Homo sapiens: one gene and its partners. The protein of the gene in region 2 interacts with the protein of the main gene of each other region in a pairwise test. Each region holds a gene or a part of one and is shown on either strand. Other genes may lie near its edges. The genes, in order: NDUFA3, TLCD4, CYP4F22 and STATH.

The links.
Region 1: the proteins of TLCD4 (region 2) and NDUFA3 interact in binary tests that used the Homo sapiens proteins (3 or more experiments, as listed by UniProt).
Region 3: the proteins of TLCD4 (region 2) and CYP4F22 interact in binary tests that used the Homo sapiens proteins (3 or more experiments, as listed by UniProt).
Region 4: the proteins of TLCD4 (region 2) and STATH interact in binary tests that used the Homo sapiens proteins (3 or more experiments, as listed by UniProt).

Annotation. Positions count from the first base shown.
Region 1 is NC_000019.10:54,098,038-54,105,854, reverse strand, and holds the start of NDUFA3 (NADH dehydrogenase [ubiquinone] 1 alpha subcomplex subunit 3), read right to left. Parts: upstream 3,001-7,817; 5' UTR 2,977-3,000; coding exon 2,967-2,976; intron 2,742-2,966; coding exon 2,667-2,741; intron 1-2,666. Other genes in the region: OSCAR (osteoclast-associated immunoglobulin-like receptor isoform 1 precursor), read left to right, coding at 5,063-5,099, 6,075-6,107, 6,254-6,265. UniProt on the Homo sapiens protein: Accessory subunit of the mitochondrial membrane respiratory chain NADH dehydrogenase (Complex I), that is believed not to be involved in catalysis. Complex I functions in the transfer of electrons from NADH to the respiratory chain.
Region 2 is NC_000001.11:95,190,263-95,197,579, reverse strand, and holds part of TLCD4 (TLC domain-containing protein 4), read right to left. Parts: intron 6,031-7,317; coding exon 5,712-6,030; 3' UTR 1-5,711.
Region 3 is NC_000019.10:15,511,465-15,518,781, reverse strand, and holds part of CYP4F22 (ultra-long-chain fatty acid omega-hydroxylase), read right to left. Parts: intron 1-7,317. UniProt on the Homo sapiens protein: A cytochrome P450 monooxygenase involved in epidermal ceramide biosynthesis. Hydroxylates the terminal carbon (omega-hydroxylation) of ultra-long-chain fatty acyls (C28-C36) prior to ceramide synthesis.
Region 4 is NC_000004.12:69,991,032-69,998,995, reverse strand, and holds the start of STATH (statherin isoform a precursor), read right to left. Parts: upstream 3,031-7,964; 5' UTR 2,971-3,030; intron 574-2,970; 5' UTR 559-573; coding exon 508-558; intron 1-507. UniProt on the Homo sapiens protein: Salivary protein that stabilizes saliva supersaturated with calcium salts by inhibiting the precipitation of calcium phosphate salts. It also modulates hydroxyapatite crystal formation on the tooth surface.

The DNA of each region.
Region 1 (7,817 bases), on a different chromosome or scaffold from region 2:
GAAGATAAAGTGCGCAGGGGGAGGGCAGCAGGGAGGGCCAGCACGTCCAGGAGGATCCTTGGTACCTTGGGATCCCTACTTATAGACAGGAGGGTTTAAAACTCTTTTTTGGGGGGTTAAGTGGAGGTAGGGGTTGGAGCCTAACACTCACAGATACGTGGGGCCTGGAGGAGGCAGCAGTGGGGTTGGTCATGGAATGAGCACGTTTGAGTGTAGGGTCATCATGGAGCATCCTGGGGGTAGTGTCATGGGACTGTTCTGGAGAAATCAAGACTGTTACAAATTTGGCCGGGCACAGTGGCTCAAGCCTGTAATCCCAGCACTTTGGGCGGCCAATGTGGGCGGATCACCTGAGGTCAGGAGTTCGCGACCAGCCTGGACAACATGATGAAACCCCATCTCTACTAAAGATACGAAAATTAGCCGGGCGTGGTGGCAGGAGCCTGTAATCCCAGCTACTCAGGAGGCTGAGGCAGAAGAATCCCTTGAGCCTGGGAGGCAGAGGTTGCAGTGAGCCCAGATTGTGCCATTGCACTCCAGCCTGGGCAACAGAGAGAGACTCCATCACCAAAAAAAAAAAAAAAAAAAAAGCCTTACAAACTGGAGGAGAAAGGGTTGCACAAACAACAGTCACTGACCACAGTCCATTTAGGGTGGGAGCCAGGAGTCCTGGGGGATGGGGTACAGTTCATAAAAGGAATGTTCTAGGCCAGTGCTGTCTGACAGATGGTAAGAGCCAGGTATATAATTTTATATCTTCTAGTAGCTACAGTAAAAATAAGAGATACAGATGAAACAAATTTTAAGAAACATACTTGGATGGGCGAGGTGGCTCATGCCTATAATCCCAGGACTTTAGGAGGCTGAGACGGGTGGATCACCTGAGGTCAGGAGTTCGAGACCAGCCTGACCAATATGATGAAACCCCGTCTCTACTGAAAATACAAAAACAGCCAGGTGTAGTGGCATGCGCCTGTAATCCCAGCTACTAAGGAGGCTGAGACAGGAGAATCGCTTGAACCCGGGAGGCGGAGGTTGCAGTGAGCCGAGATCAGGCCATTGCACTCTAGCCTGGACAAAAGCGAAACTCCGTCTCAAAAAAACAAAAACAAACAAACAAAAAAAACCATAGTACATCCAAAACATCACTTCGCCATGTAATCAACAAAAGATTATTGGTAGTTTACACACTCTGTTATACTAAGTTTTTGAAATCCAGTGTCTTATACCACCTCAATTCATACCAGCACCACTTCAAATGCTCAGTGGCCAGTTGTGGCTGGTGGCTGCCATACTGAATAAGTGTTCAGAACCTTAACCTAGTGCCTGGCTGGTGGACCAGCAGTACTGACAAGACCTGGGAACTCTTCAAAAATGCAGAATCCCATGCCCCACCCCAGACCTACAGAATCAGAACCTACAGTTTGGCCGGGCGCAGTGGCTCACCCCTGTAATCCCAGCACTTTGGGAAGGCAGATCACTTGCGGTCAGGAGTTCAAGACCAGCCTGGCCAACATGGTGAAACCTTGTCTCTACTAAAAATACAAAAATTAGCCGGGCGTGGTGGTGCTCGCCTGTAATCCCAGCTACTTGGGAGGCGGAGGCAGGAGAATCACTTGAACCCTAGAGGCGGAGGTTGCAGTGAGCCATGATCAAACCATTGCACTGTAGCCTGGAAGACAGAGCGAGACGCCATCTCAAAAAAAAAAAAAAAAAAAAGCTGGCCGGGCGCGGTGGCTCACGCCTGTAATCCCAGCACTTTGGGAGACCGAGTTGGGAGGATCACGAGGTTAGGAGATCGAGACCATCCTGGCTAACACGGTGAAACCCCGTCTCTATTGAACATACAAAAAATTAGCCGGGCATGGGGGCGGGCGCCTGTAGTCCCAGCTACTCGGGAGGCTGAGGCAGGAGAATGGCGTGAACCCGGAAGGCGGGGCTTGCACTGAACCGAGATCGCGCCACTGCACTCCAGCCTGGGCGACAGAGCGAGACTCAGTCTCAAAAACAAAAACAAAAAATTAGCTGGGCGCCTGTAATCCCAGCTACTCGGGAGGCTGAGGCAGGAGAATCCCTTGAACCCAGGAGGCCGAGGTTGCAGTGAGCCGGGATCGCGCCACTGCACTTCAGCCTGGGTGAGAGTGAGACTCCATCGCAAAAAAAAAAGCTACATTTTAACAATCCCCCGCCCCCATCCCTGCAGGAACTCCGGTGCTAATTAAAGTGTGAGTAGGGCAGTTCCAGGGCAGAGGGCAGAGATTTTCAATCAGCAAGGCACATTGGGATCATACGGGGATTTTCACAAGACACAGATTCCCCAGTCCCACCTCCACCCAAGCCAACTCAATTCAGAATGGGGGAGAGGAAAGATGAAAAGGAGGAGGAGGATCTGGACTTTTTTTTGGTGCTCAGGTGTTAAGGCATAAGCAGGGTTGAGAACGTCTCATTTAGAGGGGTTAAGAGCGTATTGGGTAGGTGGAGAGGAACGCGGGGGGCGATGGTGGAGAGGTTATAATGGGTATGGGGATAGATAAGGGGATGCCGTGGGGGTGCAGACACACTAGAGGGGACCCGAGGGCGGCGATAGGGCTTTAGGGGTACAAGATGGAGGGATGTAGGGGGACGGGGGTGGACGATGCAAGTTTGCGCCTGGAGCACTCACGCACCGAGGCCCCCGACGACGAAGGACACGACCAGCACTGGCTCCTTGTCCCAGGCATTCTTGAGGAAGGCGCCGACTCCTGAAGGGGTGGCAAGAAGCGTCACCCCTGCAAGTAGCTGCCCCCGGTGACCTCTAACCCTCTCGTGCCACCCCTGCCCTGGAGGAGCCCCCTCGTGACTTCTGCGTTCCCCTCCAGCACGGACCCCATCGCTTCCACCCCTGCCCTGCCGCACCTCAGTCCCAGGACCGCCCAGAGGTTCCCAGAACTACCCGAGCCCCGTGCGCCACCGGCACCTGCACTTACTCGCAGCCATCTTTGTCTCCGCGGCGGCGACAGCGGCGAGGACGCGGAGCACCCTGGGAGTTGTGGTCCCTATGCGCGAGAACCCGCTCCCAGGGCTGCGCGTGCGCCCTGGAGCACAAGTAGAGGCGAAAGCAAGGACGCGGAGCACTCTGGGAGTTGTGGTCCCTCTGTGCGACGGCCCGCTTTCGGAGCCTGCGCGTGCGCACTCGCGCAGAACAAAGATGGAGCCGTGGAGGTAAAGGAAGTGGTGTCAGGAGCAAGCGCAAGCCTGACTTTGCGGACCTGCGTGGAATCTCCTTAGTCTCAGCCTAGAAGTCGCTCCGGAGTGACTAGTCCTCCTGCTGCGACCCACCTAAGGCGGAACAAAATAGTCCCCATTTTATAGTTTATGTATGAAAGCCCATTTTACAGACGAAGAAACTGAGCCCGGGAGAAGGTGAATGACTAACCTGTCCTTCGAGGTCTCAGCTCAACATCGGCTCGTCCTGGAAGCGCTAGGTCTCATCCCAGATGGGTTAGGAGCTTTCTGCGGGCTCTCACAGTGCTCTGTTACCGCCATTATAGCTCAGATCACTTAAGAAACTGACCTGGTCTGGGCCAGGCGCGGTGGCTCACGCCTGTAATCCCAGCACTTTGGGAGGCCGAGGCGGGCGGATCACGAGGTCAGGAGATCTAGACCATCCTGGCTAACATGGTGAAACCCTGTCTCTACTTAAAAATACAACACAAATTAGCCGGGCGTGGTGGTGGGCGCCCGTAGTCCCAGCTACTGGGGAGGCTAAGGCAGGAGAATGGCGTGAACCCGGGAGGCGGAGCTTGCAGTGAGCCGAGATCACACCACTGCACTCCAGCCTGGGCGACAGAGCGAGACTCCGTCTCAAAAAAAAAGAAACTGACCTGGTCTTGGTCTTTCAGTCGGACTGGTAGCTGCTGCTTGAGAGCAGTAACGGAGTCTGAGTTCCCTCTGTGCCTGCCAACATGGCACAGCGAGGGTCTGGCACGTAATAGGTTCTAATTTTTTTTTTTTTCTTCTGAGATTGAGTCTAGCTCTGTCGCCCAGGCTGGAGTGCAATGGCGCGATCTCGGCTCACAGCAACCTCCGACTCCCGAGTTCAAGCGATTCTCCTGCCTCAGCCTCCTGAATAGCTGGGATTACAGGCGCGCGCCTCCACAGCCGGCTAATTTTTCTTTTTTAGGAGAGACGGGGGTTTCTCCATGTTGGTCAGGCTGGTCTCGAACTTCCCGACCTCAGGTGATCCACCCGCCTTGGCCTCCCAAAGTGCTGGGATTACAGGCGTGAACAACCGCGCCCGGCCTAGAGGGGCTAATTTTTATCTATCTATCTATCTAACACAGTATCACACCAAGAGCCTGGCACATAATAGGTGCTAATTTTTCTCTGTCAACCAATCTATCAATCGATCAATTAATCACAGCAAGGGCCTGGCACATAATTGGTGTTAATTTTTATCTATCCATCAATCAATCACAGCAAGGGCCTGGCACTTAACAGGTGCTAATTTTTATCTATCTATCTATCTATCTATCTATCTATCTATCCATCCATCCATCTATCTATCTTTCAATCACAGCAAGGGCCTGGCACATAATAGGTGCAAATTTTTATCTATCTGTCAATCAATGACAGCAAGAGTCTGGCACATAATAGGTTCTTATTTTTAAAACAGACAGATATCTTTCTATCTGTCTATCTATATTTAAAGACATGGTCTCACTCTATCACCCAGGCTGGAGTGCAGTGGCACAATTTATTTATTTATTTTTTAGACAGGGTCTCGCTCTGTTGCCCAGGCTGCTCTTGAACTCTTGGGCTCAAGCGATCCTCCTGCCTCCACCTCCTGACTAGTATTTGTTTCTAGAGTTAAATAAATGAACACCACAGGTTATGACTGAACCCCCTGCTAATTTTTCCACAGTGCCATAGGGCTATGACACAGTCACCCACAGGCCCCCACCTCGATACTCTCTTCCGTAAATGAGGATCTGGGTCTGGTTTTCTGATGTTGCCTCATTTCCTGGGAGGGGAGAGGGTGCGACCAAGCCCTGGCTCCAGCTCTAGCGGGTATCTGCCCACCATGGCCCTGGTGCTGATCCTCCAGCTGCTGACCCTCTGTGAGTCACCCCTTTCTTCTCCCTGGGTTCCTGGCTGGGGTTGGGGGCAGAGAGAGAGGCAATGGAGACCCAGACACCCTGCAGGGGGACCAGGCAGCAGGTTTGGGATTCTAGGTTCAAATAAAGAACAGGGCTGGGGCCCAGACCCCTGGGTCCTAAAGCAAGAGAACACAGATTCCCGAAAGAGGAAGGAGGTGGGGACAGGTATCTCTGGTTCTTGAGGCAGGAAGAGGTCAGGAGACAGGGAGGACTCCCAGATTCTTATATGGGAGGGGGATGGAAGCCAGGACTCCTGATTCCCTGGGAAAAGGGGGCTGGGAACAGGGCTCTTAGCTCCTGAGAGAAGAGGGAAATGGGGACCCAGATTCCTGAACTCGTGAGAGGAGAAACTCTACGATCATTGTTCCCTGGAAAGGTGGAGTTCAAGGGCCTGAACTCTTGGTTGCCCAGGCCAGAGGGGTCTGCGTTCAGACTTCTTCGGTAGGTGGGCAATGGATGTCCAAATTTCTGCCTACTGAGACAGGAGGAGGGAGGGATAAGATTCTCATTTCCCAGAGGAGATAGGAGCTGGGAACTCAGATTCCTGGGTTACCAATGAGATGGGGCTGGCCACAAAGGGTTTTGAAAAGAACTCGCTGTTGGGCGCAGCGGCTCATGCCTGTGGGAGCCGAGGCCCAGCACTTTGGGAGGCCGAGGCGGGTGGATCACCTGAGGACAGGAGTTCAAGACCAGCCTGACCAACATGGCGAAACCCCTCTCTACTAAAAATACAAAGATTAGCCTGGTGTGGTGGCGGGCACTTGTAGTCCCAGCTACTACGGAGGCTGAGGCAGGAGAATCACTTGAACCTGGGAGGCAGAGGTTGCAGTGAGCTGAGATCACACCACTACACTCCAGCCTGGGCGACAGAGTGAGACTCTGCCTCAGACAAAAAAAAAAAAAGGAAAAAGAAACTAGTCCCTCAACCTCCTACAGGGCCTCTGTGTCACACAGACATCACTCCGTCTGGTGAGTAGCCACCCCATCCACTCTCCTTTTGTTGCTGACACCCCTTTTCCAATTACTCAGATTTTATTTTGGTGCCCAATCCCATCCCAGATATCCTTATTTTCCTCCCTCCCTCCATTCCTTCCTTCTTTTCTCATTCCCCTTAGTGGCCATTATAGGTGAGTACTGAAGACCAGGAACTTCTGAGGCAGAGGCCTAAGCTAGGACCTCAGTTTCACCATCGTATTCATTTATATGTGACCATATGACCTAGAACAAGTCACAGCTTGCTAAGACTCCATTTCCTTCTCTGTAAAATGGGCCGCTGTGAGATCTCATCAAATCACATGTGCAAAACCCTGAGCCTGGCACAGTACAGGGCTTAAGAAATAGGATCTTGGGCTGGGCGCAATGGCCAACGTCTGTAATCCCAGCACTTTGGGAGGCAGAGGCGGGCGGATCACAAGGTCAGATCGAGATCATCCTGGCTAATGTGGTGAAACCCCGTCTCTACTAAAAAAAAAAAAAAAAAAAAAAAATTAGCCGGGTGTGGTGGGACGCACCTGTAATCCCAGCTACTCAGGAGGCTGAGGCAAGAGAATCGCTTGAACCCAGGAGGCAGAGGTTGCAGTAAGCTGAGATCGCGCCACTGCACTCCAGCCTGGGTGACAGTGCAAGACTCCACTTCAAAAACAAACAAACAAACAAAAAAAACTCTTTTGGAGATATTTCAGTGTCGCTATAGCTATCTCTACCTATTTATTTTATTTATTTATTTATTTATTTTGAGACCAGTTTCTCTCTGTCGCCCAGGCCGGAGTGCAGTGGTGCAATCTCGGCTCACTGCAACCACCTCCTGGGTTCAAGGGATTCTCCTGCCTCAGCCTCCTGAGTAGCTGGGACTACAGGCACACACCACAATGCCCGGATAATTTTTGTATTTTTAGTAGAGACAGGGTTTCCCCATGTTGGTCAGGCTGGTCTGGAACTCCTGACCTCAGGTGATCCCTCTGCCTCAGCCTCCCAAAGTGTTGGGATTACAAACATGAGCCCCCTCACCCGACCCTTATTTTTATTCATTTTTAGAGATGGGGTCTCATTGTGTCACCCGGGCTGGAGTACGGTGGCTCTATCATAGCTCACTGCAGCTTTGAATTCCTGGGCTCAGACAATCCTCCAGCCTCAGCCTCCCAAAGTGCATGCCACCATGGAGTTCTCACTCTGTTGCCCAGGCTGGAGTGCAGTGGCATGATCTCAGCTAACTGCAGCCTCCGACTCTAGGGTTCAAGTAATTCTCCTACTCAGCATCCCAAACAGCTGGAACTACAAGCTAGCACTACCACGCCTGGCTAATTTTTCTGTTTTTAGTAGAGATGGGATTTTACCATGTTGGTCAGGCTGGTCTTGAACTCCTGACCTCAGGTGATGCACCCACCTTGGCCTCCCAAAGTGCTGGGATTACAGCTGTGAGCCACCGGACCCAACAGCCTTCCTGTACTCTTAATTTGTGTGATTTGTGAATAAGTGATATCTGCCAGTACTATCATTTGTCCTCTAGTTTTGTCTTTTAGCATACACAACTTAAGAAATTTGAAGTGGTCAAATTAATTAATCTTCCATACAACTTTTTATTTTATATTTTAAGAAGCCTTCCTTACCCCAAGACAAATATATTTTCCTATAGTTTTTTGAATACTTTTATAGTTTAAAAAAAAAGAAACACAGGGTCTT
Region 2 (7,317 bases):
GTTTTTTTCCACAAAATACAAAGCTTTGCACCACATTGTGGTAGTGTTCTAGCACAAGAAAATCCCAAGGTTTTCATGGAGGGGAGGGGGAGAAGGGTAATTTACAGGGTGTTCATTTTATCATTCTTGAAATGTTAACTAAAAATTTCAGGACAAAATATGTCAACCTTGTATAACATGCAGATTATTGCTTAGAACTTGCATATACTTTAAAATGGCACACATAAAGTATACAAACATTTCAAAATTTTAATGGAAATAACTTAGACATTTATTATCCCTCCAAATAAAACAACCAGGAAACAAAATAAAGAATGCCAAGTTGCTATTTTAAGTACTGATAAGTCCTAGTAACACTGATTCATACATTATCTAGTCTTACATTTTGTAAATAAAAGTTCTTCAGCCTTATGGAAATAAATTAGAAGGTATGTTCTCAAAATGGTATTAAGTATATTTTGAAAGACTTCCAAAAATCTTTGACAATTATATATTATACATTCTCAGAAAAAAGTATATATCTATGTATCTATATATATCACTATAGTTCTATTTACTGCTTTCCAAGTAGCTTTTTCAAATAAAATCTAAAAGTCATTATTATTACAAATTCTAATACCAAAAAATCTCATAACTTATCCTATTTACAAGTTAGTGAGAGTATTATCTACACAAAATTCCTTAAATAAAAAGTAGACATAGTCATACCAGAAACAAACCAAGCAGGAAACAGAAAAACACAGAGCACATTCTATATACAGCTATACCTTTAGGCTTGTTAAGTAGCAAATAACCCTAATGTACACTTAATTACAGAAATAATTACATAAAGATATAAAGAAAAAATATCCAAAGATGTTTAACGAGTTTTCAGCCAGAGGTACTGTACTTATAAATCTTTGAGATTTAGAAATATTTCTGGTTTTGGTCTTATGTATAGGGCCTGATATCAAAATGGTCCACTGCTTAGAGTGAATAAGTGTAAACATTTTCAAAGCAAACAAACCAATCTTTAGGAGCTGCTTTCAATTCTTCACTGCTATCCAAAATATATTCCAATAAAGGTATGAATTATTATCAAAACTAGAGGCTGGCCTAGTCTGGCCTAGAAACGGGTAAGGTTCAAGCCTTGGATGTTGTACTTTGGAAAACACCAAGTAACGCAGTTGCTGGTAAATTTGTTTTCAAAGAAACATTACCATAGCAAAGTTTTCCCTAAAGAGCAGGACTCTAAAATAATTTTGGCACAAGCCAGCATCCACCCTCTCATAACACAGAGTTATCTCAGTTCCTCTGTGCTCCTGTCATGGGGTCTAAAAAGAACATTTAGATAATTTACAAGCCTATAATAAATCTTCAGCTGAAACACATTACAAAGCTCTGACTGTTAAACCAGTTTAAGAAAAACAGAGATGACAGATCTCTTAATAAAACCATAACATTATTAGCTTTGCCTCATGTTGTAAACAGTTATTATTAAATGCTGAATGGCTTCCTGTAGTCTCTTAATAAGTCATGATTTGTCTGAGCTCCACTTTAAACTTTACTACAATGCTTTTTTTCAATGAGAGAACCTATTTGTAAACTTTTAAATTTGCCATAAGAGACTGGGAAGCTTATAGATACATGGGGAGGTCTCAAAAGTTGACAGCGAAAGGTGTTAGCATAAAAGAGGGAGATGCTGATGAAGTCATCTGGTGTACCAGGAGGAAGAGATGGAAGGATTCAAAGAGAATACTTCTAGATCAAGGGAGGACTATCACGGCGTTTAAGGGAAAAGCACTCTCAATGCCTCCTCTAACTCCAGATCCTCTAGCTTTTCATTGTTCCTACACACCTCACATGTGTTTTGCATCAGAACTCACTTTCAGTAGCTTTAATGTATTTCAATGAGCTGTGTTTAAGGTTGGGAAGATATATGTGCATCCAGAGACACATGAAGGGTCTCGCTGTATGCTGGCTCGCACCTGAGAAACACTGTGCTACTCTTGATAAAATTATCTAAGTTCAACTTCTTATGGAATCCAAACACATAAAAATACATAAACCTTTATGAAGTATTATTGATGATGTCAATACATGAACTTTTCCATTTCAGCTAATAGACTAAACCACCTAAAGCTATTCAAATGCACATTTATTTAAATGTTTGGAATTAAGAGCAACCTAGAAACAGAAAACGTGTTCAAATATTTATTTTAACAGCATCTTTTGGAACATGTTTATTTCCCTTAAAAACGACACAGAGGAAACATGTACACTGTAACAACACCTTCCCCTCTGTTTCTCCAGAAGAAAAATGTTTCTGCATGCCTGATAACAGATGGTGCAACCAACAGTAAACCTGGCTCTCTACACCAGTGAAGAACCATTCTCCAAATGCCCAGTGTGCCTCAGAGGAAATATACAATTTAAAAGTTGACCCTGTAGCAAAAATTTTGAGTCAAATTATTAAAATTTAGAAAAGAACTGGATTCAAATACTTACAAACTAGGCAGTTTTTAAAACTAGACCTTTAAGACCGTCCTGGGTCATCCATAATATATCAGAGTCACTCTTAGGGGTGGTAACAACATAAATAGTATTTCACTTAACGTAAGGCTAGTCCATGAAATAATAAAATCAAACAGTTGGGATAAAAATTTAATTCAATTTACTGTAGGGTATCAACACATATTTGAGCAGAAGTCAATTTCTTTGCACTCATATATAACTTCATTTCCAGTTTTACATAAATGCAAATAATCCTTTAAAAGATTTTAGACATAAGAAGGCAAACTTTATAAGTTATAGCTCATAATTTTCAAATTTTCACAAATAAAAATTTAATGCAGGATCTATGATCTTGCATGCTATTAGTTGGTTTTCATTCATTTTTTAAGTTTCACAAGAACTTTTATTTTCTAGGATACTACACATTCAAAAAACATCTTTATAATTACAGGTTATCTTTTTTCTACAAAAATAGAATTGCTCAAAAATTTATATCAATTTGCTTTTATTTTTCTATAAATATTTTAATAGAGTTGTTAAATATCAGAATGCCTGATAGAATCATTTAAATTAATCCGTGTAGTCAAAATACTTAATATTTAAAATGTCTAGCAAACGTTTTTCATTTAATAAATGAAAAATTCATCGTGCAGTAAATGATATGTTCTGTCTTCATTTGTATTTTAGGTAGGTGAATACAATCATAGAACAGCAAAGTGTACCTCCTGCAAAGGTCAGACTTAAAAGTAGCAGGGCAGTTTCTAGTGGCATTTCCATTCCATGTCTGTTGTATGAGGAAATATATAGAACCTACTTCAGGATATTTAATCTGGATGTTGAATTAACTCATGCAGCCAGCATAAGATAAGGATTGCTGAATAAGAGAATCACAAACTTTAGTTCAAAATTTTGATGTTTTAAATATACTTATTTAGTGAGTGGCTATACCAGTGAAGGGTAACATTAATGAAAGTAAGAATGAAGTTTTAAGCATGAAACAGTAACTATAAAAACAAACTGCTACATGGAGACTCACTAATATAGCTTTATATTGTTTTCATTTTGATAGTGGGTTTAAAATCTGTGTTCAGAACTATAGAAATATCCAGAGTCAAAAAATATTTATCTCAAGGTCTCTTTCTAAAAGAATGAATTTCCAAAATAGTTTTATTATATAAATTTTTTTAAAGCCACTTTTCCTGCAAAAAGGTAAGAACAAGATAAAACCGCTTGCTTTCCTACCCCCCTCTAGTTAACCAGTACATATTTAAGCACCTATGATGTGGACAGCACTAAATTTAGCAACAAATTATCAGTGTAATATTAGCTGCTTTAAAAATAACTATTATTTTACATTAATTCTTTCAAAAATAAATGTACCTAGTATAAGCCAATCAATCTCATTTTATCATTTAGTTACTGACTGAGATTTCAATCTTCTTTAAATGTTCTAAAACTTATCAGGCTCTATCTGCATTGAATAATAAAAGCAAATCAAATCAAAAGTCTTGATTATATTCAGCTAGCATGAACAATGAAAGTGAGTCAAACGTTCTCCTTCAAACTGAGAAACTGGATTACATCTTTTGGTATGAGTTCAATTAATTTCAAGTATTCATCACTGGTAGAATTAAATTTCTTCCTTTCTCAGGTAAGAATAATCATTAAACTCAAGTGCTTAAAGAATAAAGGCAATAATAGATAAATATATAATTCTATATTTGGATTGCAAGAATTAAAGTAAAAGCAAAACACATACACACACAACCAGAGTCGCCAGTCATTTATCTTCATATAATCAGACAATAATTTTGATGATAGAATACTTGGATTAAATTACCTTTTTTTTTCTGTGCTTTAAGATAGAAATTCAAAGCACTAAAATGCCAACTAAGTAAGCACGGGTATGAATTGTGAGTAAAATATGAATACTGATATTTTTGTAATAGTTTGGGTCTCATCAAGAAGAGGCCTATTTCAGGAGCATAATAAATACATATTGCATAAGACTTTGGTACTGATGGTGCTGGGTTCAGAACTCAGGGAAGATTTTGCAAACAGAAAATATTTTTCACAGAAAAAGTGCAAGGAAAGCAGATAGGGATAAACAGTGTTAAAACTTTCTTTCTTAATGATTCCTCCGATTAGCCTAAATAGTCCTCTATCAACATGCATTTTTAGAAGAAGAAACTCATCTCTTAAGGAGGTCTATAATCTGTCTTAAGCCTTATTATAAAATAAAAAAGCAATAATTTGATAAAATGCTAAAATAGAAATGACAGTGATATTTGAAAAAATCTTAAAATGTGGGAAGTATTCTCCATGACTAAACTAATTAAATATTCCCAAAGTGGTAAAATATTTCATCATTAATAGGTGATTGCATGTCTGAAATGAAAAATGTTGTTACTTCTGAATAGCCTGAGAAAAAGAACATGCCAACAATTTAGAAATTAAACCCTACACAAGTGTTGACAGCCATAGTAAGAAAAGAGTGCATACAACAAATGTTAAGAGCTATTTACAGATTTAAAAGCAGTTCCCATTCTTGCAGCAAAATTGGTGACATAAAACCATTTGTACCAGATTATCATAGTCATCTTTCACAGAGAAAAAATACCAATGCAGTTAAGAGATTTCTCAAAAGATTCACCATTATATTGATCATTTTTATTTAAACCTTTAAGATTTTTATCCATGCTTGTAAATAAGGCAAAAGAAAGGCAGAAAAGACATCTTGGGATGAAAACTAAATTTTAATTTTAGTTTCTCTCTTTTTTTTTTTTTTGAGACAGAGTCTTGCTCTGTCGCCCAGGCTGGAGTGCAGTGGCACAATATCAGCTCACTGCAACCTCCGTCTCTCGGGTTCAAGCGATTCTCCTGCCTCAGCCTCCCGAGTAGCTGGGATTACAGGCGCCAACCACCACGCCCAGCTACTTTTTTTTGTATTTTTAGTAGAGATGAGGTTTCACCATGTTGGCCAAGCTAGTCTCGAACTCCTGACCTCAGTGATCGACCCACCTTGGCCTCCCAAAGTGCTGGGATTACAGGCATGAGCCACCGTGCCCGGCCTTCTCTTTTCTAAGGTTTAAAAAAAATGACACTGAAATCCTGAATAACAATTATAATTAAGAAAGGTACACAAGAACATGCCAAGAATTCATCCTATCAGCAGATATGCTGGGTAGTAATGAAGTTTGCTTATCGGTAGCACTCTTTTAATCAAGTTTTCCATTCTGAAGACTATTTTTGGCTTTCTCTTGTCTGATGTGAGAGATGACTTTGATGCAACCTTTTGAAATTTTGATCATCCACATGACATTCATCACATCCAAAACAACACAACTAATGACCCAGGATAACTGGATTAAAACTCCAAGCCTTATGTAGGGTTCTGTTCCATACACGGAATACATGAAGCCATAATGAGGAAGCATTGAGGCAATCCGCACGATGAAGAATACTACTGTCATGAGTATTCCATTGATAACGATAGCTTTAGAAAACTTGGGATACTTCAGAGCTTCAAAGAACCACCTGAAAAATGAATTAAAGAAACATCACATTTATAGTGCATCTCTGAGGATTAACCATTTTTATTTTAGTTTTTAAATTTTAAAATTCAGTGAAGGAGGAGCAAAGGGCCTAGAATAGCATACGCAATGCTGAAAAAGAACAAAGTTGGAGGACTCACACTACCCATTTCCAAGACTTAACTATAAAGCGACAGTAATCAAGTCAGCATGGTGTTAGTGAAAGATCAATAAACCAATGGAAGAGAAAAGAGAGCTCAGAAATAGACCCACACAAATATACTCAACTGATTTGTGACAAAAGCATAAAGGTAATTCAGTGGAGAAAAAAAGTCTTTTCAACAAGGTGTGCAAAATTGTATATCAACATCGAGAAAAATGAAGTTAAGCAGAGATCTCACACCTTACACAAAAATTAACTCAAAATGGATCATAGACCTAAATGTAAAATGCAAAACTATAAAACTTCCATAAGAAAAAAGGAAAAAAACCTGTATGATCTTGCATCTGGTGGTGCTATTTTAGATACAACACCAAAAGTGTCATCCATGGAAGAAAAAGTTAGTTAAGTTGGACTTCGTTAAAATTAAAACTTGCTCTGCGAAAGACACTGTTAAAGAAAAGACAACCACACACTAGGAAAAAATATTTAAAATATACATGTATGGTAAAGTACATGTATACAAAGTACACAAAGAATTCTTAAAAGTCAACAATAAGAAAACAACCCAATTAAAACACTGGTAAAAGAGCATAACAAAAACCTCATCAGAAAATATATATAGATGAAAACTAAGCATATAAAAAGATGTTCACTATTGTCATTAGGAAGTGCAAATTGCAGTGGCTCACGCCTGTAATCCCAGCACTTTGGGAGGCTGAGGCAGGTGGATCACCTGAGGTCAGGGGTTTGAAACCAGCCTGGCCAGCCAGGCGCAGTGGCTCACCCCTGTAATCCCAGCACTTTGGGAGGCTGAGGAGCGTGGATCATCAGGTCAGGAGTTCAAGACCAGCCTGGCCAAGATAGTGAAACCCCGTCTCTACTAAAAATACAAAAATTAGCCAGGCATGGCGGCGGGCACCTGTAATCCCAGCTACTCAGAGGCTGAGGCAGAGAATTGCTTGAACCCAGGAGGCAGAGGTTGCAATGAGCCGAGATCACACCACCACACTCCAGCCTGGGCGACAGAGCAAGATTCCATCTCAAAAAAGAAAAGAAAAGAAAAGAAAAGAAACCAATGTGGCCAAAATGGCGAAACCCCATCTCTACTAAAAATACAAAATTATCTGG
Region 3 (7,317 bases), on a different chromosome or scaffold from region 2:
CTTCCCTGCTCAAAATTCTCCCATGGCTCCCCACTTTGCTCTAAATGAAATTTAGACTCTTTTGTTTTCACGGTTTTTCTTTTTTTTTTTTTTCTGTGTTTTGTTTTGTTTCTTTTTTTTTTTTTTTTTTTTTTGAGACAAAGTCTCATTCTGTCGCCAGACTGGAGTGCAGTGGCGCGATCTCGGCTCACTGCAAACTCCGCTCCCCGGGTTCACACTATTCTCCTGCCTCAGCCTCCTGAGTAGCTGGGATTACAGGCGCCTGCCACCACGCCCAGGTAATTTTTTTTTTTTTTTGTATTTTTGGTAGAGATGGGGTTTCACCGTGTTAGCCAGGATGGTCTCGATCTCCTGACCTCGTGTTCCGCCCGCCTCGGCCTCCCAAAGTGCTGGGATTACAGGCGTGAGCCACCGTGCCCGGCCTTTTATCACGGTTTTTCTTTTAGAGGCAGGGTCTTGCTGTGTCACCCAGGCAGAAGTGCAGTGGTGCAATCATAGCTCACTGCAGCCACAAACTCTTGAGCTCCAGAGATCCTCCTACCTCAGCTTCCCCAGTAGCTGGGACTACAGGCATGCACCACCATGCCCAGCTAATTTTTAAATTCTTGGTAGAGATGGGGTCTGGCTATGTTGTCCAGGCTGGTCTTGAACTCCTGGTCTCAGACAATCCTCCCACCTCAGCTTTCCAAAGTGCTGGGATTCTAGGCATGAGTCACCTCATCCAGCTAAATTTAGACTTTTTGTCATGGACCACAACAACCTACATGGCTTACCCCTGTTGATGCCTCTAGCCCTGTCTCCCACCACCCTCCTCCTCACTTGCTCACCTCAGGCTGCTCCAGGCCACTCCTTCCACAGGCCAAGCAACTTCCCGTCTCAGAGCCTTTGCACATTCTGTTCCCTCCATCCACATTCCTTTCCTCAGCTGTGCCCACACCAGCTCCTCATCCTCCAACCCCAGCTCTGCCCTGATGGTCCACTCCTTTGCACCACAATCAGCCACCTCCCCTAGATCACTCTCCAAAGAATCATTGAGTGCCTGTTATGTGTGATGATTTTCACTATCATTCACTCCATCTTCCCAGTAAGCCTTAAAGAGAGCTGGAAGACTTCTGAGTGAAATCACAGCTAGAGCCCCCAACTCGCACCCAGGAAAATCCCAGCTGAAATCTCAACAAAGGAAATGTCTTCTGGAATGAATGAAATGGGAAAGAATTGGGATAAGAGAAGGTGCCAGCCCTAGAGAGGGATCCCTGCTCCAGGTGGCTGGGTACATGGGGAGATGGGTGCTTGGGGAGGGTGAGAGAGGGGAGTTGTGGAGCCCTGTGTCCGCTTCACCTCCCCGTCCCCCTACCAGACATGGGCTGAAGTCCTTCCCAGGACAAACAACCCCTGGCTCTGCCCCCAGGCAGGACCACATGTTGTGAGTCCCCAGTTGGGACACTCTCTGGAAGCCTCCAGTTTCTCCACTACAAAATGGGAATCATGACAAGAGGTCCACCAGATGCCCATGGGAAGACCACCATGAAAGGTACATTGGGGAAGTCCTATACTTTCCACAGCTGGGGTCCTCCTGTCCCTCAAACAAGAACACTTCTGTCTGGCACCCACAAAAAAAAATAGTGCAGCCACTGTGGGGAAACCCTAGAATTATCATTTGAGGTCGGGCACGGTGGCTCACACTTGTAATCCCAGCACTTTGGGAGGCTGAGGTGGGCGGATTGCCTGAGGTCAGGAGTTCAAGACCAGCCTGGCCAACATGGCAAAACCCCTTCTCTACTGATAATACAAAAAATCAGCCATGCGTGCCTGTAATCCCAGTTGCTTGGGAGGCTGAGGCAGGAGAATCGCTTGAACCAGGTAGTCAGAGGTTGCAGTGAGCCAAGATCGTGCCACTGCACTCCAGCCTGGCAACAGACTCCGTCTCAAAAAAAAAAAAAAAAAAAGAATAACATCTCTTCAGGCCACGTACCCCATGGACCTCTCATGAGATCCTCTGAGCAAGTGGACTATCTTTCCAGAGTCCAGGGATTCCAGGTTGAATACAAAGACTTCCCCAAAAACAACAAGAATGAATTTGTATCTCTTATCCATTGCTCCTCTCAGCCGCCTCTGATCAGCCATAGTGTTATAAGTAAAATGTTTATTCAGAAATAGAATGCTTGTTCCTCGGTACTGCAAGTAAAAATCAGCATTCAGATAATAAGTTTTCTCAGCAAGGCAATTTTACTTTCTGCATAAAGGGTGCTCCTTGCAGATGGAATAATGGCGAGAGCACACCTGAACAAAGGAGGGAAGCAATTTTTATCCCTTATGCAGTTTGTCCTTGCTACTGTGTCCTGTCTCCATTGGCTGAAGCAAGACCTCACAATCTAAATTAAACCTGACTGGCTAATAATTTAAAACTTTCCTAAATAGGTAAAGGCAATAGAGAGCAAAGGAAAAGAGGAAGTTGCTTACAAAAGGACTTAGAAAAGCAATAATATTTCCAAATAAGGAAAGGGCATGGGCTGCGAGCTGGGACATGCCTGTGAGCACATCCAGCACAGATATCTTGGTTAAAGTACAAGGACGTAGAATGTACTATGTGCCTGTGAGCATGTCTAGTACAAATATCTTGGTTAAAGTACAAAGACATAGAATGTACTTATTCTCTTATATCTAACACATAGTATTGGCAAGGATGTTGAGTCCTGCTATGATATGGCTGCACTAAACATCTTTTTCTTTTTCTTTTTTATTTTTCAAGACCGAGTCTCGACCGGGCGCGGTGACTCATGCCTGTAATCCCAGCACTTTGGGAGGCTGAGGCGGGCAGATCACGAGGTCAGGAGATCAAGACCATCCTGGCTAACATGGTGAAACCCCATCTCTACTAAAAATACAAAAAATTAGCCGGACGTGGTGGCGGGCGCCTGTAGTCCCAGCTACTCAGGAGGCTGAGGCAGGAGAATGGCGTGAACCCAGGAGGCAGAGCTTGCAGTGAGCCGAGATCGCGCCACTGCCCTCCAGCCTGGGTGACAGGGCGAGACTCCATCTCAAAAGAAAATAAAAAAAAGACAGAGTCTCGCTCTGTTGCCCAGGCTGGAGTACAGTGGTGCTATCTCAGCTCACTGCAGCCTTTGCCTCCCGGGTTCCAGCAATTCTCCTGCCTCAGCCTCCTGGGTAGCTAAGATTACCGGCATGCGCCACCACACCTGGCTAATTTTTGTACTTTTTAGTAGAGACGGGGTGTCACCATATTGGCCAGGCTGGTCTTGAACTCCTGACCTCAGGCGAACCATCCACCTCGGCCTCCCAAAGTGCTGGGATTGCAAGCGTGAGCCACCGTGCCTGGCCAGCTGCACTGAACACCTTAAAGTTGCTGTCTGAGTTGGACCAACAAAGTACAGAGATGCCAAGAACAGGAAATGGATCAATGTCTGTGTGTGGGAGGTGCTGAACCTTTTCTGGCCATGAACCATTATAAAATCCCAACATATACACTGAAAATATTAAAACTGCTTTGAAAATTTGGAATTTCTGATACCTCTAGTGGGCCGAGAGACGGTGGGTAAAGGATGTGGGCAGCAGCAGGGAACACAACAGGGGAGGTGGCTGTGGCCGGGCTGGACTGTGCTGGGGTTTGTTGTGACGGCCACTCGGTGACCTGGCTGTCCCTACGCAATACCAGCTGCCTTTGGGGAAGAAGGGCTGCCCAGCCAGCTGGCTCTCCTGGGGCACCAGCAGATCCACGCCCTGGGCACCTTCCTGTTTGGTCTTTTTTTTCCCGTGTGAAAGAAGAAACTGAAAGCATGACCCCTTCTCAAGCTGGCTTAGTTGGGACAAACCCTGGACAGCCACACCAGAGAGAGGCCTTCAACCAGCCCCAGAGCTAAAAGCACCAGAGAAAGTCAAATGCTTCCTATTCAGCATGACCTAACTTCTAGTGTGCCACGGCCCCACCACTTCCTGCAGTGCCCACACCATCACCACTGCTTTCTCTTCCAACAGTGATCTGTATTCTTAGTTTCATTATTTCCTTTTTATTGGTATGACACTATATAAAATTTTCCTCCTTCCTGCCTTCCTTCCTTCTTTCTTTCTTTCTTTTTCTTTCTTTCTTTCTTTCAAGACAAAGTCTCACTCTGTCACCCAGGCTGGAGTGCAACGGCACAGTCTTGGCTCCCTGCAACTTCTGCCTCCCAGGTTCAAGCAATTGTCTGCCTCAGCCTCCCGAGTAGCTGGGCCACCACACCCAGCTAGTTTTTGTACTTTTAATAGAGACGGGGTTTCACCATCTTGGCCAGGCTGGTCTTGAACTCCTGACCTCGTGATCCACCCGCCTCGGCCTCCCAAAGTGCTGGGATTACTGGCATGAGCCACCGTGCCCGACGACACTATATAAAATTTTCATTTGAGAGTTTCTCAACTGTATCTAATTATATCGCACAGTTTGGAAACTTTTCTGAGACTGACTTTATCAATAATCTAACCGACAAAGATCATATCCACGTGTATGTAGTTAGACATTTTTATTTCATTGACTAACCCAGCACCATTTCAGTGATGCAAATTACGTGCCCTATGGTTCAGCTGAAACAGTCCTGGACTTTCAAAAACCTTGAATAAGTCTCCCACAGTTGTATAAATTGGACAATTTAGGAATTTTAAACTTTAGATGATCATTTGCTTCCATTTTTATTTTATTTTTATTTTTGTTAATGCAAACAGGACTTAAACAAATGAACTTTGATCTCCATTTTAAATATTCTTTAAGAAAATCATGTGTCTATACATACGGCTCTTGAGGACTTAGCTTTCACTACACTACAGGATATGATCTCCACATAGTTCACATAAAACTGCAGACTGATTTTCCAGAGTGCTCGATACTATTAATTACATCTCGATTAGGGCTGAAAAGTATGACCTATGTTTCTTTATACAGTTGTGTTGCTTTTGATGTTGTGTTACTATACACAGAAGTGTGTGCACTGGGCCGGGTGCGGTGGCTCACGCCTGTAATCCCAGCACTTTGGGAGACCGAGGGGGGTGCGGATTGCCTGAGCTCAGGAGTTCGCAACCAGCCTGGACAACACGGTGAAACACCATCTCTACTAAAATACAAAAAAATTAGGCTGGGCGTGGTGGCTCACGCTTGTAATCCCAGCACTTTGGGAGGCCGAGGCGGGCAGATCACGAGGTCAGGAGATCGAGACCATCCTAGCTAACACGGTGAAACCCCGTCTCTACTAAAAATAAAAAAAATTAGCCGGGCGAGGTGGCGGGCGCCTGTAGTCCCAGCTACTCGGGAGGCTGAGGCTGAAGAATGGCGTGAACCCGGGAGGCGGAGTTTGCAGTGAGCCGAGATCGCGCCACTGCACTCCAGCCTCGGTGACAGAGTGAGACTCTGTCTCAAAAAAAAAAAAAAAAAAAAATATATATATATACAAAAAATTAGCAGGGCGTGGCAGCATTCGCCTGTAGTCCCAGCTACTCAGGAGGCTGAGGCAGGAGAATCGCTTGAACTCGGGAGGCAGAGGTTGCAGTGAGCCGAGAACATGCCACTGCACTCCAGCCTGGGTCACAAAGCGAGATTCCGTCTCAAAAAAATAAAAATGAAAAAAGAAGTGTGTGCACTGAGGCTCTGTGTGTGGTCCATATGGAAAGCCTGGTACCCCTGCGAGTTAAGTACTGCCTCCATTCATCGTTTACACTGGAGTTTTTCTCCTCATGGAATGCGAGTAAAACTTAGTGTTTGTCACCAATAAATGGTAATACAAAAAAGAGAGAGAGAGAGAGAGAGAAAAGCTTTGAGGACCCAGGAAAAATGGTGGCAGCCTCTGGAAAGGGCCTGAAAGAACTCGGGACAGGGGTGGAAGGGAAACTTAAGTTTACTATCCACTTTTCCAGTCGTTTTGGTTTCCTATACCATGAGCACATGTCACCCATTCAAAAAAAATTGAATCAATTATAAAAATTCATTAGTTTACTGCATGACACAAAGAGTGAATCCTAATGTAAACTATGGAGTTTAGATAATGGAGGAAAGGTATCAGCCAGGTGAAGTGGCTCATGCCCGTAATCCCAGCACTTTGGGAGGCCAAGATGGGAGGATCACTTGAACCAAGGAATTTGAGACCAGCCTGTGCAACATAGTGAGACTCCGTCTCTACTAAAAAACAAAAAAATCAGGCCAGGCATGGTGGCTCATGCCTGTAATCCCAGCACTTTGGGAGGCTGAGGAGGGAGGATCACTTGAGGTCAGGAATTTAAGACCAACCTGGGCAACATGATGAAACCCTGTCTCTACCAAGAAAAAAAGAAATAGCTGGGCATGGTGGTGGATGCCTGTAGCCCCAGCTACTTGGGAGGCTGAGGCAGAGGTTGCAATGAGCCAAAATCTTGCCACTGCACTCCAGCCTGGGGGACAGAGTGAGACTCTATCTCAAAAACTAAAATTAATTTAATTTAATTTAATGTTCACTTTTGACTTCAACAGGCCTGGGTTCAAATCTCAGCTCTCCTATTCCCTAGGTTAGCAGCCTTGGGTGAACCCAGTCCCTGCCATCAGCCTCCCTTTGCCAATCTGTGAAATGGGTTGATAATAACAGGACCTACCCCCTAAGGTTTTTGGGACGGCTCAGTGAAATGAGGCATGGAAAGGCCTTGTCACGTAGCTCACAAAATGTTAGCCATGATGACTACTCCTATTATTGCTATTTGATAGAAGTGAGAGCAATTCAAAGGTGACACCCTCAGAATGTTGTGGGCGGCTGGCATGTCCACTCCCTATCTACACCGGCCCCCGATCTCATCCAGCAGGCCCGCCTTGGTAGAGGTGGCCCTGCCCTGCCAGGGCCCGCATTATCTGGTGGTGGTGAAAGCCAGCGACTGGCTCCGTGTCCCGGCCCACGCCCAGGTCGCGCTGGTTTGTCAGGTTGGCCCAGCCGTTCACCCACTGAGGACTTGTTATACAAGGTGTGTGGGCTCCCAAGAAGGAGTGGAGGGCACGGACCCAGGCCGACGCCAGGTACGAGATACATGCCTCTTCTTGAACTGCAGGGGCTGGGACCAGCCAGGAGCCTGATGGAAGAGCACCCCAACGCTGGCCCCATCACCCCAAATCCCAGCCCTCCTTTTCACTCCAAGCCTGTAGTCAAGGCAGCCTGCCCCCGTCCCCACTGATTCATGGTGCCACCTTGGCTTCCTCAACATCAGAGGGCTGGCTTACCCCAGAGACTCACATATTCCCCCAAAGTGCCAGACCCCAGAAGGCTGGAGCTGAGAGGGGACTTCTAAGTTGTTTTGTTGTTGTTGTTGTTTGTTTGTTTT
Region 4 (7,964 bases), on a different chromosome or scaffold from region 2:
GTCATAGATCTGAAGTTTTGTTTTATAGTTAAAAATAAGCAGCTTTATTTTAGAAAGTGTGTGCTAAATAATTGTATACTAATTTTAAGTTAGTTTTTGCAAGGAATGACTTGAAAATTTCTACTTTGACATCTTCTAATACTTGAATTCCACTCAAGTGCACCTAGTTCATTCCTGAGATTTCTAACTTCAGATTGTCTAGAGCATTACATGTTTAAAGATACTTTTAGAAGCTCTCAGTTCCACATATTTAAGAAGTTCAGTAAAACTTTCTTTTATTTCACACTAAGCTAAATATACTTTAGTGTCTGTAGATGAATAATGACTATTTATTCTAAATCCTTATATAGCTTATGTAGGTTAGTACAAAAAAAAGTTCATATGGAAACATTTAAACATATAAAGCTGTATTCAAGTAAACACCAATATATGCCAGAACACAAGGAATAGAGAGACTCTTGGGATAGGTACTGAGAACATATTCTTCAAATGTCCTGATATACTTACAATCATGGAAACCATGAGAGCCAAGATGAAGGCAAAGACAAGGAACTTCATAGTTGGCTGGGTTCTCTGAAAACATATGTGGAAATTCAGTATCACATTTTTTCTTGCATTCGCCCATCAAAAGTTTATTGATTATACTACGCTCCAAAGCACTGGGAGACACACTCCAGATAGAAAGACAATTAAAACCCATTGCCTGACATCATGAAACTTGGAGACTTGTTGGAGACACTGATAAGTAAAAGTGAGTGTATTGATATGGAAATGCTAAGGCATTAGAGTAACACACAAATCAACACCTTACACAGACCAAGAGAATAGGGGTATGAAGGTAAAGAAGAAAGTAAAGCTTGAGTTGGATTATGCAGGATGAGTAAAGAGGTGTTGGGTGACTGCAAGAAAATGAAAAAGAGGGAGGATACCATATTGAAAGTGCAAACAGTTCAAAATGTAGGGAAGATAAAACTGGAGCAGTTTATCAGAAGATAAAACTGGAACAGTTCAAAATGTAGGGAAGATAGAACTGGATATTATGGGGCGCCTTAAATAATGACATTAGGGATGATATTTAAGGTACAGTGTAAAGAGATGTTTGGATGTTAGAATGACCAGCAATGGGCAATCGCTTTATAATGTTACTGAAAATGAGCCAGATTTCTGTCTTGAGAGTTGCAAAAATGGGGTCACCTTCAGATTAGAACATTAATGATACTGGGTAGAGAACAATCAAACTGATAAGAAGTCACAGAGAAAATATTCGTACCTCCTCTGAGAAGTTGAATTGGTGAAGATGACTTAATATTTTAAATAATCTCATTCAACAAAATTAACCTTATCTGGGACTGTGATATGTTATCATAAACAGTATAAGCCAGTTAACCCAGTTCCTTTGTTATTAAACAAAAAACGTTAGATTATTTATTTGTAAATTATAAACATCTAAATAAAGACATTTTCAGTGAAACACATAATTGCCACAAGAGTTACAAATAAATGACATTTTTACCTGTTTATTGAAAACTATAGAGTAATTCATATAAAGGTAATGGTCTTCATTATTTTAATCTCTTTTACCAATAACTTGTGATAAAACATTACAAGAATATTTTTTACCTAATTATAAAAAAAATTACTGTTATTAATAACCCCAAATCTCCAAAACATAAAGCAGAACTCATGATTTATGGCATTTGCTTTGTTACTTATTCACTGATTTGCCTCAGTTATTCAAACTGAAATTTCTGGCCGGGTGTGGTGGCTCATGCCTGTAATCACAGCACTTTGGAAGGCCAAGGTGGGCAGATCACCTGTGGTCAGGAGTTCAAGACCAGCCTGACCAACATGGAGAAACCCCGTCTCTACTAAAAATAATAATAATAAAAATTTAGCTGGGCATGGTGGTGAGTGCCTATAATCCCAGCTACTTAGGAAGCTGAGGCAGGAGAATCACTTGAGCCCGGGAGGTGGAGGTTGCGGTGAGCCGAGATTGCACCATTGCACTCCAGCCTGGGCAACAAGAGCGAAACTCTGTCTCAAATTAAAAAAAAAAAAAAAAAAAAAAGGAAATTTCTGGTATTAGAGTAAGTGTAAAAATAATATGTACTTTGGGGTTTTTCTATCACCTGATAGATAAACCTACCCATCAGTCATTTTATGATGCAAAAAGCATAAAAACTTTAGTGTATTTTATACCTGTAAATTTTATTGAAAGTATGGAATCAAAAAATGCTCATAGAAGAGTAGTTTTGTTTTACTAACCTTGATAAACTGAAAGATGGATATATAGACATAGATATATAAATATATATGTCATGGTTTTAAAAAAATATTTCCCCAATGAAAAATAATAAAAATATGAAATAGTAAAATCTTTGTTTTCTGCCATATCACAACTGAATGAAAACAACTTAAGTAATATAAAACAGTAAGGCAGTAAAGCATGACTGTTATACAACATTTTTTATTATGCAGAATGACATAACTGTTTAAAATGATGGAAAGGTCAATGAAAAGGTAGTGAGAAATGTTTACTTATGGGAAAAAAGTAAATTTTTAAAAGTTAAACTTGTGAAACAATATATACATTTGCAAAAAAGAGAACGTATGCTATTTTCTTAAAATATGAACTTCGAATAAAGGTAAAAGTAGTAAGTAGCAGAGTAGATGCCAGTACGTAGACAAGGAAATAAAAAGCTTTTCAGAAGTTCCATCAGGAGAGAAGTTGGAATATGTCTCCATATTCCACATTATTTACTTTGCATGATGATTGCTGATTTCAATGTATAGTTATTCAGATTCTCAACTTACCTTCAGATCCTAAGAAGGTCATCATTTCTCTCAATTGTTTCTTTATGAGAAATTATCATTACATAAATACACATTTTTATAATTAGTTTTCAAAAGATTTTAGGAAGCAACACTCTAGATTAAGACAACATATTCGATTATACATGAACATATTACCTTTTACTCAAGATGAGACTACAGAAGTAGTGAAGTTGAAGTGAAGCTTCAAGAGATGATGTGCTACCCTAGAGGGCCAATGTATTTAAACACTCTGAAGTCCCCCATTTGTTTTTGTTAAATAATGGCAATTATGAGATCACATTATGGAAACTAAAAGTAATGCCCAAAATCTGTCTCTACAAATGATAAAAATAACCGTAACAAAGTGATTTTGCAATAGATGATTGTGAAGACAAAGTAACCAGGAAACAACTGTACCCACTGCATGTTAATCCCACTGTTAGTCTAGCGCTGAGTGAGTCAGATGACAGAAAAGCATGCTGGAGGAAACCAGGCATAGAAATAATTGCAGTGATAAAGATGTTTCCACAAGTATGTGTCCAAGGTGGAACAACTCTATGACACAAATAATACTTACCATGTTATCAAGATTTTACATGTTCTCTGATAACTCGTGGTAACTGGCATAATAAAATTACAGTCTTCATATACTTCAAGAGTTTTTCTTCAAATCATTATTTATCTCATACTTTTACCATCTTCTATTGACTTTAGAATATTTTAAGTTACAAAGTGAACGTAAACATTTGCCAAATTCAGTAATCTTTTGGGTACTATATGATAAAAAATTATTATATTTATGGTGAAATGACTCTAAGTGCTCACTGATACATATCTCACATATGACTGAATATATGTATTTGGAAATTCAATTTAATTTCCTGGAGTTTTTAAGGCTACATATTTTTCCATAGCAGCCATGTGTTGACATGATTACACTAGAGTGAAGGAAAAAATGTTTTCATTACATTCCTAGGAAAATTTGTGTAAAAATTACCCTACTCACTGCTGGTTGGATAACTCAATGTACTAAGAAACGAATATCAAAAACTTATATATAAAGTTGAGGTAAGTTATACAGCCTAGTGCATTGTTCCTCAGAGTGTGCCATATGGGAACATCACAGACAGCATCAGCTGGAGCCTGTGGAAATGTAAATTCTTAGTCCACCTTCGCAAACTTGCTGAGTCAGAATCTTGGGGTTGTCCTAAGGCGTTTGCATTTTAACATTATCTCCAGGTGATTCTTTGGGTACTGTGAAGTTTGAAACAAGGCTGGTCTCAGTGGCTCATGTCTGTAATCCCAGCACTTTGGGAGGCCGAGGCAGGAGGATTGCTTGAGCATAGAAGTTCAAGAATAGCCTAGGCAACATAGTGAGACCCGTATCTCCACAAAAACATAAAAAAAAAAACAACCACATATTTGTCTCTTGAATGCATTAGTTATCCTTAGGCTTTAACCAGTAAAGATAATTTGTGGTTTAATTTTGTATCAGATTTTTTAAGGAAGTATTTATTAGGTAAATTTTTATGCTGTATTGGAACAGCCTTACTGGAAATTATGATTACTCTCTGGGTAATATACAAGAAAATATAAATCATTTCTTAAGGCAAATAAATAATTCAAATTAAATTAGATAGATATTATTCTTATTCTTTTGTCATGAGATTTATAAGCATTATAGATACAAAGTTTCTTCTCATGTGTAAAACAAACACAATCTCTTTACATTCTGAGTGGAAAAAAGTTACATAGGGTTCAGTAACTATTTTATTTTTCCAGAGATGGGGTCTTGCTGCATAGCACAGTCTTGAGTGCATTGGTGAGATCATAGTTCACAGATGCCTGGAACTCCTGGGCTCAAGTGGTCCTACAACCTCAGCCTCATGTTTAGCTGGGACTACAGACATGTGTTATCACTCTTGGTTAATTTAATTTAAATTGTTTTTGGTGGAGACTTGGTCTTGCTATGTTGCCCATGCTGGTCTTGAACTTTTGACCACAAAAATCCTTCTGCCTTAGCCTCCAAGTAGTGCTGGGATTGCAGTCATGAGCCATTGTGCCTGGCCCATGGTTCAGTAACTACTGAACTATATCTGATTTTAAAAATAAACTGCTTCGATTACTTGGGGAAAGTCAAATGATTTTCTTCTTTTCTTCTTTCTTTCTTCTCCCTCTCTTCTCCTTTCTTACCTCTGGTTTTCTTCACCACTTCATTTATCCAACAATACTAGGTACTGTTCTAGTAGATCTAAGGTATTCATGTTCTAGTGAACATAAAGCAAACTAATAGCCCAAAGGCACTAACAAACAGCAAACTACATGGTAAGAAATATTGATACATCTTAATATACACACTTTAAAATTACAGTTAAACTTAACTCATCTACATGTTATGTTGGAATACCAACATGTAGGCATTAGTCCACCCATCATTTTCTGCTTCCCCAAGTTAGGAAGTGTGGGGATTATGTATGATAGGTCAAACAAGGATAGCAGACTAGAAACAAAGGAGTGACCTTCTCGTGTTAGTTATGGTCCCACCCTCCAGGAAGAGCAGACCAATTTAGAAGACTGATGAACCAGAACATGACTTCATATTTTATAATTAAAGAAAACAGATATCTTATCCTCTATGCCAAACACTGTTCTCTTTGAAAATGTCATGACCTTTCGTTACAAAGGAAACATCAACAAAGAACTACTGCTTTATCACAGGTGAGGCAATACAATTTTTGCTTAAGGATACAACCCATGAATGGGTATTTGTAGTGATGTTTATGCTGGGCTCTCCTCAATCTTGCTTCTCTATCTTCTTTACTGCCGTCTCCTTCTCCTCTTCCTCTTCATCCTCCTTGTCTTCCTGCTGCTCCAGTTGCTGCTCCTCCTTCTCCTTATTCTGCAATTCTCTTATGATGGAAACATGAAACCATTTATGACCAATATCCATGATATTTATTTATTTAACTAAAAATGTTATATTATGTTCCTGTTTGAATTACTAAAATGACATATATGATTGACAAATGCTGAACAACATATGATAATCTACTAGATAGATAGAATGTTGTTTATTCTGGAGACATGACATGAGAAGCTTTACTCTTGTTCTTAAGGAGTTTACAGTATAATTTGTGAATCAGACAAGGATAAAGGCTAAGACAGAGAAACCCAGGAAAACATGAGTCTAAAATTGGGAGAAGAAGGTCAACAATGGAGTTGCAGATTGGGCACTTATCATCTTATTGATTGTAATCAAACTATGAGATTATTACAGCTTATACAATCAAGATGTGTAGAGTCAGAAGAGAATAGGCTGAGGACAGATATCCTGCTGAGCACTGATGTAATGTGTAAGAGAAAATAGAAAGTCTATGAAAAAAATCTGTGATGGAAAAGAATAGCAGAAGAGGTATTTCTCGGCTGTTTGTATGTTGTGGAAGCCAAGAGGATGAAACATCAGGAAGGAAATGTTAATTACCATGTTGCAGTGACCTTATAGGTTGCTTAGTTTGCTTTATGTCTTTAAACTAAAATTTTCTTATTTATAAAATGTTACAGTAATACGTGAAACTTAAAGGAGAGTATATAAAAATCACATTGTAAATTAAAATGACTCAAATGCAAATATTAGATTCTATCATTATTATAATTTTCATCATCATAATCTTCATGAAAAAGAACATCTTAATTTTTAAAATTCTCCAAGTATAAAGGAGGAAATACAAAACCAGGAACAACAGGAATATATCTCTGGAAAAACATTAGAATCATGTCAATGATCAAGATGTTGCAGAGAGTTACAAATCTGGTCAAGTATAGATTAATTTATAAACAAGTGAAAGTAGAGAGCTTAAATGGGTTAGATCAAATGGGCTCAGTTTTTAATTCAGAGTAGATTGTTTTCTGGAACTGACTACAAGGTAAGATGAGTTGGATATTTCAGAAAACTTAATGATACATTTGGACATTTTATTGAAGGGAAAGGGTGAGAGCTATAAAACTAAATACAAGAATATTATTTGCTTAGCAACATTGTATGCCACATTTATAAAACATAAAATAAATTCTTTTCTTTGTACATTTGCGTTTTCTTGGTAGAGATGCAGTGTAAGAAGATTTAACAATTAGTAGGATTGAGATTTTAGCAAATATAATTAATCAAATTCAGACTTCACTGGAGTTGTTTGAGTTATTGAAAGTATGTACTAAATCATAAATATTAAGTTGTAGGTTAGGAGAATATGGAAAAAAAGAATGAACAGGTAGAACAAAAGGATGTAAAACTATTAAGGGCCAGCAGGGTTCTGTAATGCCAAAGTAAGGGATCTATGCTTCAACCCTTGCCTCCCTTCCAAAATATAAATCAGATCAATGCCTGATCCAATGGCATTTATCTCAATCCAAAGGCTATCTTTGACCTATGGCGCTTCAATCATCTCCTCACCTCTTTTCTGTAATATAGTTTATTTTAATCCACATCTTTCCTTCTCTATTCATGCTGTTTTCATTAGAGTTTTCCCAAACGCAATAAATGTATTTCTACCACAGTAGAATGCAGCCCTGCTATTTCTTCTGCTGGATTTTTTTTTTCATGCTAACTTATGAACATAAGCACTTCATATGTTTTCTAAAATGCCACTGTGCCAGAGAAGCTTTTCTTGACCATCCTATTTTAAATTGCCTCTTTGCCTTAGTCCTGCCTTCTTCATCTTTAGCACACTTATGATTACTTGAGATACTATGTATTATTTTTTCACTTGTTGTTTCTATCTCCCAACTACAGTGTAAACTGCCTGAAGGCCAACTTTCATCTCTCTTAGACCTTGCTGCATGTGCAGTATCTAAAGAGGGCCTTGTCAGGCCATCGAGTGTCACTCAATGTATAAATGAAGGAAAGTAATTGCTGACAAACTCATGGAGAACATTGTTGTGTTCTGAATTCTTGCCTAAAGCTATGGAGTGACATGGGGGTTATCTTCTGGTCTGCAGGGACTGAGATAAGAAAAGTGAGGACTTTGGAGGCTTAGCATATGTGCTGTGACAAAGGAATCCAGGAGCAAATCAAATGTTAGAGTAAATACGTGCAATAATCTAGCTGCGCTTGAAGTCCATATGTTGGTTAGATATAAGATGACAGACCAAATGAG